2 linked regions of the Homo sapiens genome follow. The protein of the gene in region 1 interacts with the protein of each later gene in a biochemical or structural test. Each region holds a gene or a part of one and is shown on either strand. Other genes may lie near its edges.

Evidence for each region. Proteins that work in one complex are often made in the same cells at the same time.
Region 2: the proteins of BLVRA (region 1) and PRKCZ form a complex in vitro, tested with the Homo sapiens proteins (one study listed by BioGRID).

What each region holds. Positions count from the first base shown.
Region 1 is NC_000007.14:43,782,672-43,786,423, reverse strand, and holds part of BLVRA (biliverdin reductase A), read right to left. Parts: intron 1-3,752. UniProt on the Homo sapiens protein: Reduces the gamma-methene bridge of the open tetrapyrrole, biliverdin IXalpha, to bilirubin with the concomitant oxidation of a NADH or NADPH cofactor. Does not reduce bilirubin IXbeta.
Region 2 is NC_000001.11:2,144,272-2,148,023, reverse strand, and holds part of PRKCZ (protein kinase C zeta type), read right to left. Parts: coding exon 3,683-3,752; intron 2,638-3,682; exon of another isoform or gene 2,513-2,637; intron 1,998-2,512; coding exon 1,916-1,997; exon of another isoform or gene 1,719-1,915; intron 1-1,718. UniProt on the Homo sapiens protein: Calcium- and diacylglycerol-independent serine/threonine-protein kinase that functions in phosphatidylinositol 3-kinase (PI3K) pathway and mitogen-activated protein (MAP) kinase cascade, and is involved in NF-kappa-B activation, mitogenic signaling, cell proliferation, cell polarity, inflammatory response and maintenance of long-term potentiation (LTP).

The DNA.
Region 1 (3,752 bases):
CTGTGTATTTCTCCTTTCAGTTCTATCAGTTTTGACCCACATATTTCAAAACTCTGTTATTAGATACATACAAGTTTAGGATGGTTATGTCCTTTTTTTTAATTGACCCCTTTATCTTTCTAAAATGACCATTTTTATTCCTGGTAATATTTTTTGCCCTATAATTTATTTTGTCTGATATTAACAATCCATTCCCAATTTCTGTTGATCAGTGTTGCATAATACATTTTTTCCCCAACCTTTCACATTTAATCTATATGTGTTTTCATAGCTATAGTTAGTTTCTTATAGGCAGCATATAGTTAGGTCTTGCTTTTTTTTACTCAGTCTAACAATCTCTGCCTTTTAGTTGAAACGTTTAGACAATTTACATTGTGATTATTGATATGGTTGGGTTTCCATTCAAATTCTATAGAAATCCTGCTATTTGTTCAATCTGTTCTTTTTCCCCTCTTTTCCTGCCTTATTTTGGATTAATTAGAATATTTATTATGATTCCATTTTATCCCATTTGTTGGCTATTAGCTATAACTCTTTTTCAGAAGTTAAGGATTTTATATTATATATTTTACTTACCACAGTCTACTTTAAAGTAATATTATGCACTATTCCACATATACTATAAAGAACCTGACAACAGTACACTTCCATTTCTTTTCTCCTAGACCTTGTACTGTTGTTATACAATTCAATATTGAAGCGAGAGATTCTCCAGAACTTGCCCAGAAGCCAAGACGTCTGGAAAGGATCTCAGCCTCTGTCAGCCTGCAGCTTGGGAAGAGTGATTCACAGAGCCTGACTGTCCACTGCTGCTAAACCATACACTGGCCTTGGCTCACACATCTGACTGAACTGTCTCCTATGACTAACTGCCTCTCTTTCTTCAGCCTTGCAAGTTTCCTGGGAGTCCTGGGAGTGGACTTCACATATAAAAGGGGACTCTGGGAGACCTAGTTCCTGGCTTCTCTTCTGGAAGTCAGGGAAGAGTATAGGAAGGAGTGGCCACAGTGCCCAACTGACAATTGACAATTTCACCAAGTAAGTCCTTTTTGGGTTACTAGTCTTGTTTTCTTTTCTTTTTTTTTTTTTTTGGTAATTTCTAATTACCAAAAAGCAGTAAGACAGCCTCTGGAGAAATCTGTACAGCCAAAACACATATTAATGATCAAATATTAATATTTGTTTCCCTTTCAATCAAGAAAAGAAGACTAGCAATCCCCTTATTAGGTTAAATATTTATGGCATTCTTAAGGTTACCGTATTACTACATTCCAGATAATAACCAGGATATGCTTCTACCAGCTTAAAAAAAAGGCACAAGGTTAAGAAACAGCTCCATTATCTATAAATAAGCCAAACTGCTTTTTAAGATTTCATTAGTTAATGATACACACAAACTTGCATACAAAACCTGGCTTGCACAGTGTGTCAGGCTAAATTATAAACTGCTTTAGGATTTGGTTTCGATATTACTGCCTTGCAAAACTGACACACAGGGACAAGATATGGGTGAAAGGCCCAGTGCAGTAGCTCATGTCTGTAAACCCAGCACTCTGGGAGGCTGAGGTGGGCGGATCACTTGAGGTCAGGAGTTTCCAGACTTGCCCGACCAACATAGTGAAACCCTGCCTCTACTAAAAATACAAAAAATTAGCCAGGTATGGTGGTGGCGGGTGCCTGTAACCCCAGCTACTTGGTAGCCTGAGGCAGGAGAATCGCTTGAACCGGGGAGGCAGGGGTTGCGGTGAGCCAAGATTGCACCACTGCACTTCAGCCTGGGCGACAGAGCAACACTCCATCTCAAAAAAAAAAAAAAAAAAAAAAAGATATGAGTGAAGACACTGGTATCTTAATAGTCAAGCTGCTCTTAGGGGAAGAACTTTATTTTTGAGAAAAATTACTTGTTAGGCCTTTTAACGTGAGCCTCTTCATTTTACATGAGGGATCTTGAAGGTGCGTTCTGAAGGGAAACTGCAAATCAGAGATGGCTAGACCACTCTGTAGTAGCAGCTAAAACTTTGGGGCTAGGAACCAGTAGGAGGCAGAGGAAAGGGGAAAGTGCACGCAGGTTAGCAAAAGGCTAAAATCTGCAGAGAAGGAAGCCAGTGAGAAACGCCCAGTGGAGGAGGGAGCAATGGACTTCCAGAAACCAGGACATCCACAGTTCCATTTTCAGTTGTCTGCTGTGCTCTGCTATCCTGAACCTTTGGGAAAATGCCACTACAAATAGCCCTATAGAGGTGGTATTTAAGGAACAAAGAACAGGAGCAGTTTTGAGACAGCAGAAAAGGACACATAAGCACAGCAAAGTGACTAAAAAACTCACTTAGGTCCAAATCACAGTCACAGAGTGAGCTTGCGCCCCCACCCTTGGACTCAGAGAAGCTGGTGTTTGGCACTCCAGATGCAAAAATGGAGTTCATAGTTAGGAATGTGCTCTGCCAACTTAGAAAAAAAATTTTTTTTGAGATAAAGAGGGTAGAAGAAAATGTAAAATCACTGTAGAAAAACTTCAAGGTGAGGCATGAGGGCAGGTGCTGAAAAGGTGGAAGGAGAGTCCAGGCAGTTGGACAGAACAAACTAGTCGTTTTCATCCACTATTTGCAAGAATTAAAAAAAAGTTTGATAACACATTGGTTGGCCTGGGGAAACAGGTATGTTCATATGTTGCAGGAGGGAGAGAAGAACCTGCTTTATGGAGAGCAACTTGGAAATATTTATTACAAATTAAAATGCAAATGCCCTTTGTTCTGGTAAATCCAACTGTAAGATAATGTGTCCTATAGAGCTACACAAGTCAAGTGACTTAGGCTTACTGCAGCCTTGCTTATAACAAGCAAAAGATGGAAATAATCTATATGTCATTAATAACAGGCTGGCTATGAAAGTTATGATAGACTCGTGATATAGAGTATTACATGGCAATATAAAAATAAAAGAACGAGGAAGCCCTTTATATATTGAAAGGGACTGGTCTCCAAGATAGATGATCGGGTGAAAGAAGCAAACGACAGCCTAGTGTGCACTGTGTGCTACAGTCTGTGTAGTAACAGGAGGGGTGGTAGCCAAAGGAAAAAGATACTGTCTATGTTTAGAATCTCTTTGAAAGGACAGCCCAGAAACCTGTAACACTGAAACTGGCGACATGCTCTTGCTGGGAGCAAGAAAAACAGAGTGGCTGGGAAACAGGGATAGGAGGGAAGAAGGCTTCTCATAGAAAATATTTTTTTTTCTTTTTTTCCTCTTTAAAGTTTAGAATCACACAAATGTATTCACTATCTAAAATATAAACCACCACTGAAAACAGACATAAATATCAGAGGGCTGCTCTAGGAAGGTGAGAATTCTGCAGTGTATAGCGCCTTGGCTCACTCCCGCTTCCCTTCCTGGAGCTCCCTCTACAGTGCTCAGAGTCCTCTGCTGCCCCTGCCCCTGCCCTGTCCAATGACCCCAAGTGCCCCAGACTCCTCTCACCCCTCCTGGCCCTGCTGCAATTGGTTTTCACTCCCATACCTCCCTGCTTCACCGTGGGTCATCCAAGACCTTCTCATCACATTCAAGGGCTTCTTCTCAGCCACATCCTCCTGGACTTCAGACATGAGTGACCCTTACCTGGACCTTCTTCAAACTCACTCCTTCCTTTCTTCTCTTACCTCATGCTACCGAGGTTTTCTTTTCACATTTCACTTTCTTTCTTCATTTTACCCAAGATGTGCATATTTCCCAAAGCTCAGTCTTCATCCCTCTATTTT
Region 2 (3,752 bases), on another chromosome or scaffold:
AGTGGACAATAGATGGATGGATAGATGGAGAGGTCAGTGGACAATAGATGGATAGATGGAGAGGTCAGTGGACAATAGATAGATGGATAGACGGAGAGGTCAGTGGACAACAGACGGAAAGATGGAGAGGTCAGTGGACTACAGACAGATGGGTGGACAGGTCAGTGGACAACAGATAGATGGACAGATGGAGACGTCAGTGGACAATAGATGGATGGATAGATGGAGAGGTCAGTGGACAATGGATGGATAGATGGAGAGGTCAGTGGACAGTGGATGGATAGATGGAGAGGTCAGTGGACAACAGACAGATGGGTGGACAGGTCAGTGGACAACAGATAGATGGACAGATGGAGACGTCAGTGGACAATAGATGGATGGATAGATGGAGAGGTCAGTGGACAATAGCTGGATAGATGGAAAGGTCAGTGGACAATAGACGGAAAGATGGAGAGGTCAGTGGACAACAGACAGATGGGTGGAGAGGTCAGTGGACAACAGATAGATGAACAGATGGAGACGTCAGTGGACAACAGATGTGTGGATAGATGGAGACGTCAGTGGACAAGATAGATGGATAGATGGAGAGGTCAGTGGACAACAGATAGATGGAAGGAGAGGTCAGTGAACAATAGATGGATAGATAGAGAGGTCAGTGGACAATAGATGGATAGATGGAGAGGTCAGTGGACAACAGATGGAAAGATGGAGAGGTCAGTGGACAACAGATAGATGGGTGGAGAGGTCAGTGGACAACAGACAGATGGATAGATGGAGACGTCAGTGGACAAAAGATGGATGGATAGATGGAGAGGTCAGTGGACAATAGACGGTTGGATGGAGAGGTCAGTGGACAATAGACGGATAGACGGAGAGGTCAGTGGACAATAGATGGATAGATGGAGAGGTCAGTGGACAATAGATACATGGATAGATGGAGAGGTCAGTGGACAACAGATGAACGAATGGAAGATAGCTGGAGGATGGGTGGGTGGAGGATGGCTGGCTGGCTGGCTGGATGACGAGATGGATGGATCGTGGATAGATGGATAGGTGGTGGATGGATGGAGAATGGGCGGGTGGAGGATGGCTGGTTGGCTGGATGAGGGCTGGTTGGTTGGCTAGGTGGGTGAATGGATGATGTACGGATGAATATCTGTATAGAGGATAGGTGGGTGGAGGAGCAGGTGGGCAGGCAGTTGTTTGTGAGGCATCTCTTTTGCGTGAGGCACTGTGTGAACTAAGTGCTTTATGTTCTGTGGTCTCATAAGTGCTTTATGTTCTGTGGTCTCCCAATGAGACAGAACTCACATGCATCAAGTGAAAGTGAGGCTCTCACACCCCCGTGCAGAGGTGCAGGTGTGGAGGCTCAAACCTGGGCTGTAAGTCCAACTGGTGTTTGAGATCTCTCTCTGAATGCTTCTTAGCAATAAAACAAGTCCTTCCCCACAACAAACAAAACCTCACAAAAATCCAAGGACCATGCCACTGCCACGCTGTGTGTGCAGCAGCCACCTCGCCAGGCTTTCCCCAGATAGGGCTCAGCTCTGTGCAGCAGCCAGATTGTGGGAGGTGCCCGGCCATGGTGGCTGCTGCACTAAGTGCCTTCGAGAACTCCCGGAGCTGGTTAGAGGAAGAGGCTCTGCACCCCTGGGCAACCACAACAGCACTTCACGGAGGCATCCCTGCCCAGCAGCCTCCAGGGAGGGCCAGCTCACCCTGCTCATCTCTGCCGGGGATTGAGAGGAGGCCCTGGAGAGCCTCATCCCCAGCCCCAGGGAAGGGTGGCCAGGCTTGAAGACAATGACCCCTGCAGAGCAGATGGGACTGAGAAAGGACTCGTGGCTAGAAGGCAGAGGTGAGCAGGGTGAGGTGATGCCCAGGCTCTACCCGGCCGGAAGAAAGCAGCGCCTACTTCCATCTGTCTCCTCGGAAGGAAGGTCGGCGTCCTCGTTCTTGTCGTCTACTGGAGGCTCTTGGGAAGGCATGACAGAATCCTGCCGGAGAGACACAGAGATGGCAGCATGACCAAGTGCTAGAGCAGGTGTTACAATGTAGCTTCTGTAAACACTTTGTGACTTTTTAAAATTAAGAACTTTTTTTTACAGACAGGGTCACAGTCTGTCATCATCCAGGCTGGAGAGCAGTGGCGCGATCACGGCTCACTGCAGCTTCAACCTCCTGAGCTCGAGCAATCCTCCCGCCTCAGCTTCCAGAGCAGCGGGCACTACAGGTGCGCACCACCATGCCTGGCTAATTTTTGTATTTTTTTTGTAGAGATGGGGTCTCACCATATTGCTCAGGCTGGTCTTGAACTCCTGGCCTCAAGTGATCTTCCCACCTTGGCCTCCCAAAGTGTTGGGATTACAGGTGTGAGCCTCTGCACCTGGCCACTTCAAGACTATTTATGATTTACATATTTACACATTACAATGGGTATACTGTAATATAGTATATAAAAATCTAATTGTTATGCTATTTTACTGAATTAGATAAAGAACATAAACATTACCTATGATTCTGCAGACGGAGGTGGCCACTCGGTACTGCAGGCCATGACCTTTCCACCAAGTGCTTTATACAACGGGATATTTTGCACAATGCTTGGTCATCTCCCCTGTCCCAAAGCTGCATCCTGTCAGTAACCAAGCATCAGGGGGCCATTCTAAGGGCCTCTGGGTTCCGCCTGCAGATATGTCATAATGGAGCCACCAGTACTGGTGGTCAGCTGGGTGGCAGGCTCTGGCCTCCCTCCGCCTCTAGCTGACCACATTTCTGGGGCCGGTCTCATTTGCTTACGCTAAAGTGGACCTATGAGGTCAAAGGGCATTACAGGCTTTTTGGCAGATGCAGCTGAAGGACCTCTGGAAGGACTGTGCCAACGCATGCACCAGCCTGCGTGGTCCCCCATCCCTGTGGCTGGTGATCCTGGGGTGACACCCTGATCCAGACTCTGTCTTTATCCCGTAACAGAGGAGAGGGCACGTCACTGCCACAGGCGCCTTTCCTCCCATGCCACAGCAAGATGCAGACAAGCCACCCTCCCCAGACACACCCACTGCACGCTGCAGCAGGGCCCAGGGAGTTGAATGTTCAGTCCAGGCCTCACCCCCGTGGTTCAGTGGGATGCAGGGGGCCACACGGAAATGCCAGAGGCAGCCTTCAATAAGCAAAAGTCAATAAGGCCCCCAAAGGCCTGGATGCTTCAAGTCCAAGCACTCGGGGATGGCGGAGGGAAGGTGCCGCCCTCATCACAGGCTGGGCATGGCTTCCCAGGGGGGATGCCAGGGAGAGGCTCCAGATGTTCGGAGCCTCAGCGTGCCCAATGCTACTAGGTCAGACCTGGCTTTCACCTCCACAGTCCTTAAGAGCTGGTTCAAGACTGGGGTATGAATGAACCTTACCTCCGACCCACTGAGCAGAGCGTACCACGTCCTACCTGAGCCTGCTGCCTGAGCCTCATGCCCCAATGAGCAGAGTGTGCCGGGGGCTTGTGGGGGCTCAGGAAGATGGGTCCTATCCAAGACTGCCGCCTGAGTCTCACGCTGCAGCCCAGAGCTAGGACGGCACCACGGCCCCTCTTGAAGAACCCAGGGTCACCAAGGTCTGCTTGGACAATGGGCTGGCTGCCACGCCCCGACCCCGCCCGTGCCCCCCGGGCCTCCCCAGCCCTGCCACTCACCATATGCTTCCTGCAGGTCAGCGGGACGAGGCCGTGGCAGCGCTTATGGACCAGCAGTTTGCAGTTGATG